Linked DNA regions of Homo sapiens. The protein of the gene in region 3 interacts with the protein of the main gene of each other region in a pairwise test. Each region holds a gene or a part of one and is shown on either strand. Other genes may lie near its edges.

Region 1 (3,750 bases), on a different chromosome or scaffold from region 3:
ATCACCAAATGAATGAAGACATGAATGGATGTCAAATGAACATACAAAGAAGAAAGAAAGGGAGGGAGGAAGGGAGGAAGGAACAAAGGAGGGAAGGGTTAGAGTGAGGTACTCACCCAGAGAAGAGCTGTCCCGGCCTGGGGGTCCCATTCGTCCCTTCTCTTTCTTGCCAAAGAGACGGCCTATGGATGACTTGATGCTCTTCTTCTTGGGGGCTTTGTGCAGAGAATCTGGGGTGCCCTCACTGGGAAAGCAGGAGAGAATGAGAGCATATGCTTGCTGAGATGCCCCCTCTCCTCCCAAGTCCTTGTCCACCCCCTTCTCATCTTCCCAAGCCAGCTTCTCCCTGTCCCTATCCCTTGTCCCTGCTGACCTTCCCCGTGGGGGTCCCCCATCTTCCAGGGACCCCGCCTGCAGTGCCAAGGCCTGGGTCATTCTCTCAAGACGGGCAGAGCGGGGAGTGGGTGGTGGGGTGTCTCCTGGGATGGCCGGCCCCTCCCCTCGTGGAGCTCCAGCTTCCTCCTTAGGGACATGATTCTGAGGACAGAGGGCACAGATGCTGGATTGAGTTCAAAGAGTCATGTCGGGGGCTCCTTATTAACTGAGATGTCTACTAAGGTGTGTGTGGGGTGACCCTGGTTTAGAACACAGTATACGAAGGTAGTCTAGCTCAAGTCAGGGTGAGTTGCAGAAACTTTTTTTTTTTTTTTTTTTTGAGATGGAGTTTCACTCTTGTGGCCCAGGCTGGAGTGCAATGGCACAATCTCGGCTCACTGCAACCTCTGCCTCCCAGGTTCAAGAGATTCTCCTGCCTCAGCCTCCCAAGTAGCTGAGATTAAAGGCATGTGCCACCATGCCCGGGTAATTTTTTTTTTTTTTTTGAGACAGAGTCTAGCTCTGTCGCCAGGCTGGAGTGCAGTGGCATGATCTCAGCTCACTGCAACCTCTGCCTCCCGGGTTTAAGTGATTCTTTAGCCTCAGCCTCCCAAGAAGCTGGGACTACAGGCCCACACCACCATACACGGATAATTTTGTATTTTTAGTAGAGATGGGGTTTCACCATGTTGGTCAGGCCTCAAAGAAAGCTAATGAGTTACAGGTTCTGGAAGCAGGAAAGCTGAATTTAAGGGAGTAAAATAGGGCCAATATCTCTTTGTCTCCCTCAAAGGTCAATTCTGAGGATCTAATTTGTAGTTCTCCAATGCATGTTGTCACAGAAACTTTTTTTTTTTTTGAGACACAGTTTCACTCTGTCTCCCAGGTTGGAGTGCAGTGGCACAATTTCAACTCACTGCAAACTCTGCCTCTTGGGTTCAATTGATTCTCCTGCATCAGCCTCCCGAGTAACTGGAATTACAGGCACGTGCCACCAGGCCAGGCTAATTTTTGTATTTTTAGTAGAGGTGGGGGTTTCACCATGTTGGCCAGGTGGGTCTCGAACTCCTGACCTCAAGTGATCTGCCCACCTTGGCCTCCCGAAGTGCTGGGATTACAGGCGTGAGCCACCGCACCCAGCCAGAAACTTTTTAAAATCCTATGCAGAAACTTGACGCATGAGAAATAAAAGTAGACCAGATCTGACTAAAGTGAAAGTTAGGGTTCAAGATCCCAGTGACTCAGCCTCCCCTTTGCCCTTTGAGTTTGAACCTTTAGGGAAAGCTGAGGTTGCTTTGGAAAACCACTGGTGTGAGGGGTTATTGTTGCTGTACACTGGGGAGCCCTGCCTCTGACCTCTCCCCATCCCCCTACTAGGCTGGGGAGACTTCAGAGCACTCACAGCCTTGTCGGTGCCCTCACGGGCAGGGCTAGGGGGTGCCAGGCGGGGTGTTGAGTGGCCAGAGCTGGGAGGGGAGGGGCTGGCAAGGGTAGAGGTGGTGAGGGAGGGGGGCAGGGAGCAGCTGCTGCGGTAGCGGCCCAACGAGTCCAAGCCAGAGCTGGACACCCGACTCTCCAGCTCCTCTGCCCTCTGTTCTGTTGTCTCCTTCTCCTCTTGGATCAGCCTGAGGAGGGAAATAGGGGAAACTGGGTGAGGGGCCGCAGCAGACAGCGGGAGAGGGAATCTGGGAGCACAATGGGCCAGAAAGGCCTGGTGGGGCAATGGGAATTCTGGGGACGGTGCAATGACGTCAGAGGACTTTGGTGGGTTTCTGAAGGCCTTCCAGGCTCAAGGAGAGTCAAGGGGTCCTGAGAGTCTCAGGAAGTCATTGCAGGATTAGGGCTATCAAGGTGATTGGGGTTTGTATCAGGGTGGCCCTGATGATAGTCAAGGGGTTTGGAAAATCATGAAGGGATTACTATGGACAAAAGGTCAAGTTCAAGGTGGCCTGTAAGAGCAAGGTCATAATAGGAGCATTGTGAGATCAGGGACTCAGGCCAATCTAGGATCTGGGAAGGGCATGGACTCATTTGGTATGGAAAGTGGTGGTCATGGTATATTTGCCGAAGGCTCATGGGGAGTACATTATAAGAGAATTGCTGAATATGGCCATTGCTGGTGAATCAGGGTAGACTTTACATCACTGGGGGCTTCTTAATAAGTTGGGGACTTTTTTTTTTTTTTTTTTTTTTTTTTTTTTGACACGGAGTCTCGCTCTGTAGCCCAGGCTGGAGTGCATGGCACTATCTCGGCTCACTGCAAGCTCCGCCTCCCGGGTTCATGCCATTCTCCTGCCTCAGCCTCCTGAGTAGCTGGGACTACGGGCGCCTGCCACCATGCCTGGCTAATTTTTTGCATTTTTAGTAGAGACAGGTTTTCACCATGTTAGCCAGGATGGTCTCTATCTCCTGACCTCATGACCTCATGATCCGCTGGCCTCAGCCTCCCAAAGTGCTGGGATTACAGGCGTGAGCCACTGTGCCCAGCCTGGAGTTGAAGTTTTTGATTAGCATGTTAGGATGAGATTCTTGGTGTTTGAGGTTGGGAACCTTGTGTTGTCTTGAGATTCCTAGGGTAGTGGGAGACTCTGGGCACTGGTTATGTGAAACCACAAAATCGATGGCGTAATGGAAGATTCTTGATGCATCAAGAGGAACTGGGCTATTTGGGGATGCAGGCTTTGGTGTGTTGGGGAATGGTGAGTACTGGCTGGGGGGTATATGTGTAGGTAGCACATAGAAGACTTCTGAGTGTATCCTAGGGGATGCCTGGACAGCGGAGTGAGTGTTGGGCTGGAAGAATTCCTTGTGGATGGTGTAAGAGGAGACGGACTCAGGCTTTCAGGCCTCCAGAGCCAGAAGGGCTGTGGAGTCAGCTCCGGCAGGGCAGGGCAGGCCGGGGCGGGGCCAGGGCTCACTTGATCTCCTTGTTGATGGCCTCCAGCTGCTCCTGAAGCATGATGGCCAGCGTCTGCACGTCAGCCTGCCCACTGGGGGACAGCAGCTCGGCCCCAAACATCCCCTCTGCCTCCTCCTCATCGGAGCCGTCCAGTTCCCCAGGGAATGGGGGTGGTATGGAGCCCGCAGGGGCAGACCGCTCCCAATCCTATCCCTGTGTGGGGACAGAGGGACATTAGGTGGCTGGGGGCCGAGGTTGGCGCTGGGTCTTGGCTCATGATCCTGACTTGCCCGACCTCACTGATGCTTTTCCCAGCCCAGCTTTATTTTTTTTATTTTATTTATTTTTTCTTGAGACAGAGTCTCATTCTGTCGCCCAGGCTGGAGTGCAGTGGCGCAATCTCGGGTTACGCCTCCCAGGTTCGAACGATTCTTCTGCCTCAGTCTCCTGAGTAGCTGGGATTACAGGCGCCCGCT
Region 2 (3,750 bases), about 54 Mb from region 3:
TTGTCTGATTACATTACATGAATATTCTCCCTCCTATTTAACTCTTTGAAAGCCTCTGTCCTCGGGAAATATGATTATCACCTTTAATGGACACATTTTACACTTTCTTTACCCTAGTGCATTTACGGACAGCCAGAGCCAGCTCAACCCACACTACTGGACAGTTATCTCTCAGCCACACCCCCCACCACCTTGAAGAAGTTGACTTCATCATTTCCACACTAAAATTGTTCATCCTGCCCAACAGGACACAGCCAAGTAGGCAGGAGGTAGAGAGATAGGAGATGGAGAGGATGAGGTGAAAGCAAAAGGCACCTAACGGTAATCAACAAGGAGGAATTTGCATCTCATCTTCCCTGGGGGCGGGGTGGGGCCGGGGAGGTGGTCAAAAAATACAGCGAAAGGAGACAGTAAAACTCAAAGACAGCTTCTGTACCTAATGTCTGTGATTTCGGGTCCTTGCTTCTTCAATTGATCAATGACAACCGCAGTCTCCGGCTTGAGGAGAAGGGAGGCTCACACCCAGCACTCCTGGACCATTTCCCTAGCAACGGGAGGAGAAAGGCAGCTCAGACACACGCGTGCCCCGGCGCCCTCCCGGAACGTGCCCCGGCCCGGTGGCGTGGCAGGAGCTCGGCATCTTCCCGTGGCTCCGTCAGCAGCCAAAAGGAGAAGCGTCCATCGGAAAAATGGCATATTACAAATTTTGCTTTGGGAAGCAAAGCTCGGTTCAGACCATTGTCAAAGGAGGAGAGGGGGAGGCGGCTCTTAAAGCAGCCGCGGCCCCTTTGCCAGAACAGCCGCAGCTCCCCGCGTGCAGCTGGAGCCCCGGGGCGGAGACCGGAGACCGGGGACTGGGTTTGACTTTCAGAAACTTAACCACGCGGCGCCGCTCCCCCTCCGCGCCCGGGCCACCCGGGGTGTGTGGGGCGTCCCTCCAAAAGAAAGCTTGGAGAAAAGGCGTGAGAAGTATCTGGGAGAGAAGTTCTCCACCCAGTCTCCCCTCCTGGAGCCCCTCTGGAGTTTAAGGCTAACCCTGGGAGTTAGAAACCTAAAGGAAAACGAGTCCCTAGGGATGCAAAAAGCAGGACAGGTCTCCTCCTGGCCCCCAGCCTGTTTCCGCGCGCTCCCGTGTCTCGTTTCACTTAAAGGAGGCGCTTTTTCTCTGGAAAGGCAAACATCACCCCACGCCGTCCCCCGGCCCCCCTTCCCTCCCCCCCGCCGCCCCCCCGCCGCCACAGCACACACACCCATTTTTCTCCTCCCGGCCTTTCTGCAAGCCTCTTTGCTTGCTTCAATTGGCCGGAAGAACCAACCTGCTGGCAGCCGGTGAGGACGCTACAGCATCTTCTCTCCTCACTTGCCTCGTGCGGTGGCTGCTACTCCTCCTCCTCCGTCTCCTCCCCTCCTCCTCCTTGGCAGCCACCACCTCCTCTTCCTCTGGAACAAGGGCTTCCCCTGGAAGCTGCTGCAGTGGTTTCCACCGGCCCTTAAATAAATTCTGAAGTAATCACGTCTTTGCTCTCCTCCTCACGCACACGCGCCCGCGGATACACTCGTCTCCCCCAGAGCCGCTCCCGGGCTGCCGAGGCTCGCTCTGCTCCCAGTGCCCCCTGCGAAGGCGAGGGCCAGGGATGGGCAAAGTGGGAAGGGGGCACACGCTTCCCCGCCTGGGCTTCTTTCACACAATGGGCTCTACAGCCTTCGCTTGTGTCAGCCTGCGCTGGTGGGGATGGGAACGGACTTGGGCACCTTTTGGCTCCCCGGTCTTCTGTGCTTGTCATTTCTTTAAGCAGCTTTCTTCCCACTGGGCCAGGGCATGGTAGTCATGGTTGTAGGGACCTGAGCCAATCTAGGGTGTGGCGGCATCTGTCATTTCTCATTACCTCTTCAGTTCTTCTTCATTCATATTGTTTTGGTAATGGGAATTGTATGTTAAGTATTCCCTGCCCGAGTAAATTTTAGCTTTGAGCAGAGTCTGGTCTCTCCATCGCGCTCCAGTCCCCCTTATATCTCCACCTCCCTTTACCTACCCTCTTTTCTTTCCGTTGCTGCTGTCCATTCATACAGACTGAGGAAGCAGGAGACAAAATCAGTACCTACTCTGAGCAGAAAGGGAACGTTTCTGTGAGGGAGAGTCACGAATCCTGCTGGGTTTGGTGAAAATGAAGAGGACATGCATGAAGGAATTGGAGGATTAAACACTGAATATATTTTGGGGGTTACTGAAAATATTCTGAGTGTGCTACACGAAAGCCAAAAGACGTGTTTTACTTTTGTGTAACGCCAAGAGTCCAAAGTTAACAAAGAACTAGTATGTAAATAACTGTTCACTTAAAATTAACTACAATATCCAAGAAACAATCTTTGTTTCTGAGGGAAGTATTTAATTCAGTTAGCGACTTTACAATGGAAAGTGGGGTAAAGCTCATGTATTTACCCAACTTCTATTCTAGACTGTTATTTAAATTTTACAACACAACACAATCCTATAAGAAGTATAAAAATAATACGAAAATTCATTAGATGTCAACTGGAGCACTATTTCTCAGACATAATGTGCATACAGATCATCCATGGATCTTGTTAAGTTGTAGATACTGATTCACCAGGAATGGGGTGAAACCTGAAATTCTACCCTTCTAATGACTCCCAGATGGTACTACACTTGAGGAGGAAGGGTCTAGACCACCCAATCGACCCACAATTTGATGTGGCTTAAATACCCCTAACTACAGGAAACTCTTCACCTCACAGGATAGCCTAGTCTATTTTCAGACAAACTTCATATTGTAATAGCTTCAACATACTAATCATATATCAGTACTCATAACTTTCACTCTCTAGAATTCTACACAAAACATAAAAATTCCTTATACATGAGAGATATTCTTATTTTTACATATAGCTATTATGTCTATTTTTACAAGAATTCCTTCCTTATTAAACCTTGGTTTGAATTTCCTTGGCAATCAACGTTTGTTAATTACTGGCTCAGATGTTCCTACTGTTTCCAAGAAGAGTTTTGATTTCCTTGAGTCCCATTCGTATGTCAAATACAAGTTTTAATTGTAAGTATAATCCCCACATACAGTTGACACAGCATAGTTAAAGGCTAACCCATGGTAGGTATCGCAGAAAGAAAAACTTTGATAATGGGAGGCAGAAAAAAATATCACGAGTTAAAGGATATTTTGTTAAGAAGATACAGTCTTCATAGTAAATTTCAGCTGAAAAACTTGACATTATCACTGCTAACTTCACTGCAAAGAGTGTAAATAATATATTAAAACTGAGAAAGACTGTTTAAAGTAGCAATTTTGCATGAGGCATTAGGTGAGCCGATTCACATGAGAAGAGTTACCACCTGCACCAGTTTCTCTAGTTTAGGCCCTTAAATTTAGCATACAAGAGACACTCCAGAAGGGCTTGTTACAACACAGATTGCTGGGCCCTATCCTTCGAGTTTCTGATTCATTACATCTGATTCATTACGTGCCTATTAAGTTCCCAGGTGGTACTAATATTGCTAGGTCAGGGATCCCACTCTGAGAAACACTGTGTAGATACATCTGGAGAAATTTGGGAACAAAAGAAGCACAGAGCAAAAAAAAAAAAAAAAAAAAAGAACAGGGAAATATTTTTTATTCAAAGAAAAAACATCCCCCATACTAATATAAATCTGACTCTACTGTTTTTGATGCCCAATGAATTATTAAGATGAGATATGCTTGTCTCCTGAATAGTCAA
Region 3 (3,750 bases):
CTTCAGTTTAGTTGATTGTATTAACATCTACGTTAATTTCTTAATTTTGATGAATGTAATCATGATTACGTAAGATGTTAACGTTAGAGGAAGCTGAGTGAAAGGTATACAGAATTCTAGCTTTGGCAACTCCTCTGTAAATCTAAAATTATCTTAAAATAAAAAGTTTTAAAAACTTTTTAATATATATTATACACACTATAATAATATTAGTAATATTAACTAAAAGGGTTATTGAGAATCCAGTATTAATATGAGCAAAATGCTTAAAAGGATGTTTGACACATAGCAAATGTGCAACATACTACACATATTAGTATTATTTCACGCAGGTTTATGTGATGTGCTCATCAAGGTAAGGGGCTTGGGTTCAATGACAGAGAAGAAAAATCCATGAACTGAACTCCAAATTTTTTTGACATTGAGAAATGCCTACTTAAGTTGGCTGTTTAAAACTTGCTACTTACTTGAAAAAGATTATACTTAGGGTAGTTAGGTCTATAGCCTACTTCACAAAAAGCTGTTTAAATAAAAGAATTTTAGGCCGGGCACAGTGGCTCACGCCTGTAATCCCAGCACTTTGGGAGGCCGAGGCAGGTGGATCTCCTGAGGTCAGAAGTTCCAGACCAGCCTGGCCAACATGGCGAAACTCCATCTCCACCAAAAACACAAAAATTAGCCAGGAGCAGTGGTGTGCACCTGTAATCCCAGCTACTCGGGTGGCTGAGGCAGGAGAATCACTTGAACCTGGGAGGTGGAGGTTGCCATGAGCCAAGATTGTGCCACTGCGCTCCAGCCTGGGCAGCAGAGTGAGACTCTGTCTCCAAAATAAATAAATAAATAAAAGAATTTTAAGTAGAACAAGGCCAGGCTCGGTGGCTCACGCCTGTAATCCCAGCACTTTGGGAGGCCAAGGTGGGTGGATAACGAGGTCAGGAGATCGAGACCATCCTGGCTAACATGGTGAAACCCCGTCTCTATTAAAAATACAAAAAATTAGCCAGGCATGGTGGCAGGTGCCTGTAGTCCCAGCTACTTGGGAGGCTGAGGCAGGAGAATGGCATGAACCCAGGAGAGGGAGGTTGCAGTGAGCCGAGATCGCACCACTGCACTCCAGCCTGGGCGACAGAGCGAGACTCCGTCTCAAAATAAAATAAAATAAAATAAAAATAAAAATAAAAATAAATAAATAAAGAGAATTTTAAGTAGAACATTAATAGTGGTATGGAACCTAAAACAAAGTTCTCCTGGAATCCATCTTTCTCACTGCTGTAAAGCAGGGAATAGTCCTACACATTGGCTGGAGGGCTAGAAATGTACAATAATGAAGGAACCAGAGTAGAAGTCTAGCCTTCCTCCCTCCTCCTTTAACCCCAGTAACTCCTGCTGTAGCAGAACTAGGCTGAAGTGAGACGGGTGATAGGGTTTCAGGTAACAGTTGTCCAGAGTGGAAAGGAGAAGACAAGTCCTTGAAGATGTCAGGTCAAAAGGGTGGCCTCTTCCAAATGGTCATTGCACATAGAAACCCATAACTTAGAGATAGCTTGGGCTTAAAAATTCTACATTCTATTTAAAAAATATCTTTAGGCTGGGCGTGTTGACTCATGCCTATAATTCCAGCACTTTGGGAGGCCGAGGCAGGCAGGTCGCTTGAGGTCAGGAGTTTGAGACCAGCTGGCCAACATGGCGAAACTCCGTCTCTACTAAAAATACAAAAAAATTAGCTGGGTATGGTGGCGTGAGCCTGTAATCCCAGCTACTCGGGAGGCTGAGGCAGGAGAATGGCTTGAACCTGGGAGGTAGAGGTTACAGTGAGCTGAGATCACGTCATTGCACTCCAGCCTGGGTGACAGAGCGAGACTCCATCTCAAAAGAAATAATACAAAAAAAATCTTTATGAGATATAATTTGCATACCATAAAATGTACCCATTCAAAGTGTACACTTCAGTGTTTACTTTGTTGAATGTATTACATATAAAATCAACCTTCTGGAGAGCTTAGTTTAAATTAGGCTTCACTTAGCTTACATTGGGGTTTCAAATTATCCCAAGCCTGTTCAATCACAATCACCAAATGCTACAACTTCAGCCTCATGGGAAATATGCCTGCCACTCTCCTCAAGTTCAAGCAACAGCTTCAAACTCTGGTGGAATCACTGAAAACACTGTGTTTGGCTTACTCAATTCCTGTGTTTTTCAGAGAAAAAAAGTTTTCCTCCCCCAAACCCCAGGAGTGAGTCACTTACAACAGTCATGTAATGTAGCATTCGACCATCAACCCGTCCTTCATCAAACTGGGTCTTATATTGAGGGAGGCCAATGTCATCCAACCATCCTAAAAGAGAGAGGCCAGTGTTGCTACCATGCCACAAAACATCTGTTCTTGTGATTAAAAAGAAAAAGCAACTATGTATATAATTATTTCATTTTGTTAGAATAAAAACTTCTTACTAGTGACCCAGTTGAAATCCAGCTTCCCATGATTGGTTTCTTCTTCAGATCCCAGGGCTTGGAGTGCTAGCTGGAGTTTCTTTCGATGAAGTGAATGCTTGATTCCAAGTTCCTGAAACAATAAACATTGACTTTATAATTCTATCTGTATAGGCTGGGTGCCACTGGCAAAGGATGCAAATTTCTCCAAAATGAAGCTAGCATTAAAGACCCAATTCAATACTGAATTACAATCCCAACTTGGGCTAGTAAAGTGTTGTTGAACAAAAGGTCCCTGAAAAGCCAAGACCACCACAATTATCTTAGGGGTGTGTTAGGCATTCCCTAGTGACTCATTTTCTTTGTAAGCTAGGAACTGTAGCATGCATAAAAAGAATTTGACTCTTATTTTGTACAAAATATTAAATAATTTGGAAGAAATGTTAAATAATTAGACACAAATTGTAGGGTGCTTTTTTTTTTTCTTTTGCAAAGTGAAGTTAATTGCATATCTTACACTGAGAAAAACAGGCCAATGATAAAGCCAAACAATGATTTCGAGAAATATGAACTGAATTATGCTTATGTAATTCTTTTTCATTAAAATGCCCAATGGCTTAAGTGTTCCATAAGGAATCATCAAGACCAGGTCCTCCCAAGACCACCAGAAAAAAGAAGCATGAAGCAATTGAAAACCCAAACTTTTGTTTACAGAGTTTTTACTGGCTTCACTCATGGCCCTTTCTGGACTATAAAACAACCCTACATTCATACTGTTTTCTTCTCAGTATCCATTGTGTGAACAAAACAGAGAAGCAGTCACCTTCTCTAGATCTTGTTGAGAAGCCTGCAAAAGCGTTTGGCCAGATGCAATCCAGTGCTTGCCAGAATTCAGGTACGAGCCCAAGCCCTGTTCCATCAGCCAATTGCAAACCTGCTCCTTGGTCCACTTGGCAAATGGCATATCCAAGTCACTACAGGAAAATGAGTAATTGCATGAAAAATAATCCAAAGCCAATCCTGTGGCTTATCATTAGTTTTAAACAACTATACATTCAATAGACATGGAAATTCCCTGGTGATACACATTTGACCATGAAAAGCTTAATTTTTAGTATACATTGGAGGAACAACTGGTTGAAAGTTATCTTCTAAGACCACTGTCTTCATTTCAAATGAAACCACAAAAGATTTAACGTGATAGAGCAAGAACAAGTGCTACAGAAAAAGACCAAATTGGACAAACACAAGTCACTGTATCAGTTTTAACCAATGTTGTTTGAAGATTGGATTCCCAAACAGGAAACTCAGTTGGACTG

The links.
Region 1: the proteins of PPFIBP1 (region 3) and PPFIA3 interact in a two-hybrid assay, tested with the Homo sapiens proteins (one study listed by BioGRID).
Region 2: the proteins of PPFIBP1 (region 3) and PPFIA2 interact in a two-hybrid assay, tested with the Homo sapiens proteins (one study listed by BioGRID).

The regions. Positions count from the first base shown.
Region 1 is NC_000019.10:49,136,455-49,140,204, reverse strand, and holds part of PPFIA3 (liprin-alpha-3), read right to left. Parts: intron 3,482-3,750; coding exon 3,294-3,481; intron 2,001-3,293; coding exon 1,778-2,000; intron 538-1,777; coding exon 374-537; intron 245-373; coding exon 117-244; intron 1-116. UniProt on the Homo sapiens protein: May regulate the disassembly of focal adhesions. May localize receptor-like tyrosine phosphatases type 2A at specific sites on the plasma membrane, possibly regulating their interaction with the extracellular environment and their association with substrates.
Region 2 is NC_000012.12:81,757,964-81,761,713, forward strand, and holds the start of PPFIA2 (liprin-alpha-2), read right to left. Parts: upstream 1,388-3,750; 5' UTR 1,317-1,387; intron 693-1,316; exon of another isoform or gene 545-692; 5' UTR 437-544; intron 1-436. UniProt on the Homo sapiens protein: Alters PTPRF cellular localization and induces PTPRF clustering. May regulate the disassembly of focal adhesions.
Region 3 is NC_000012.12:27,681,201-27,684,950, reverse strand, and holds part of PPFIBP1 (liprin-beta-1), read right to left. Parts: intron 3,406-3,750; coding exon 3,255-3,405; intron 2,565-3,254; coding exon 2,453-2,564; intron 2,337-2,452; coding exon 2,248-2,336; intron 1-2,247. UniProt on the Homo sapiens protein: May regulate the disassembly of focal adhesions. Did not bind receptor-like tyrosine phosphatases type 2A.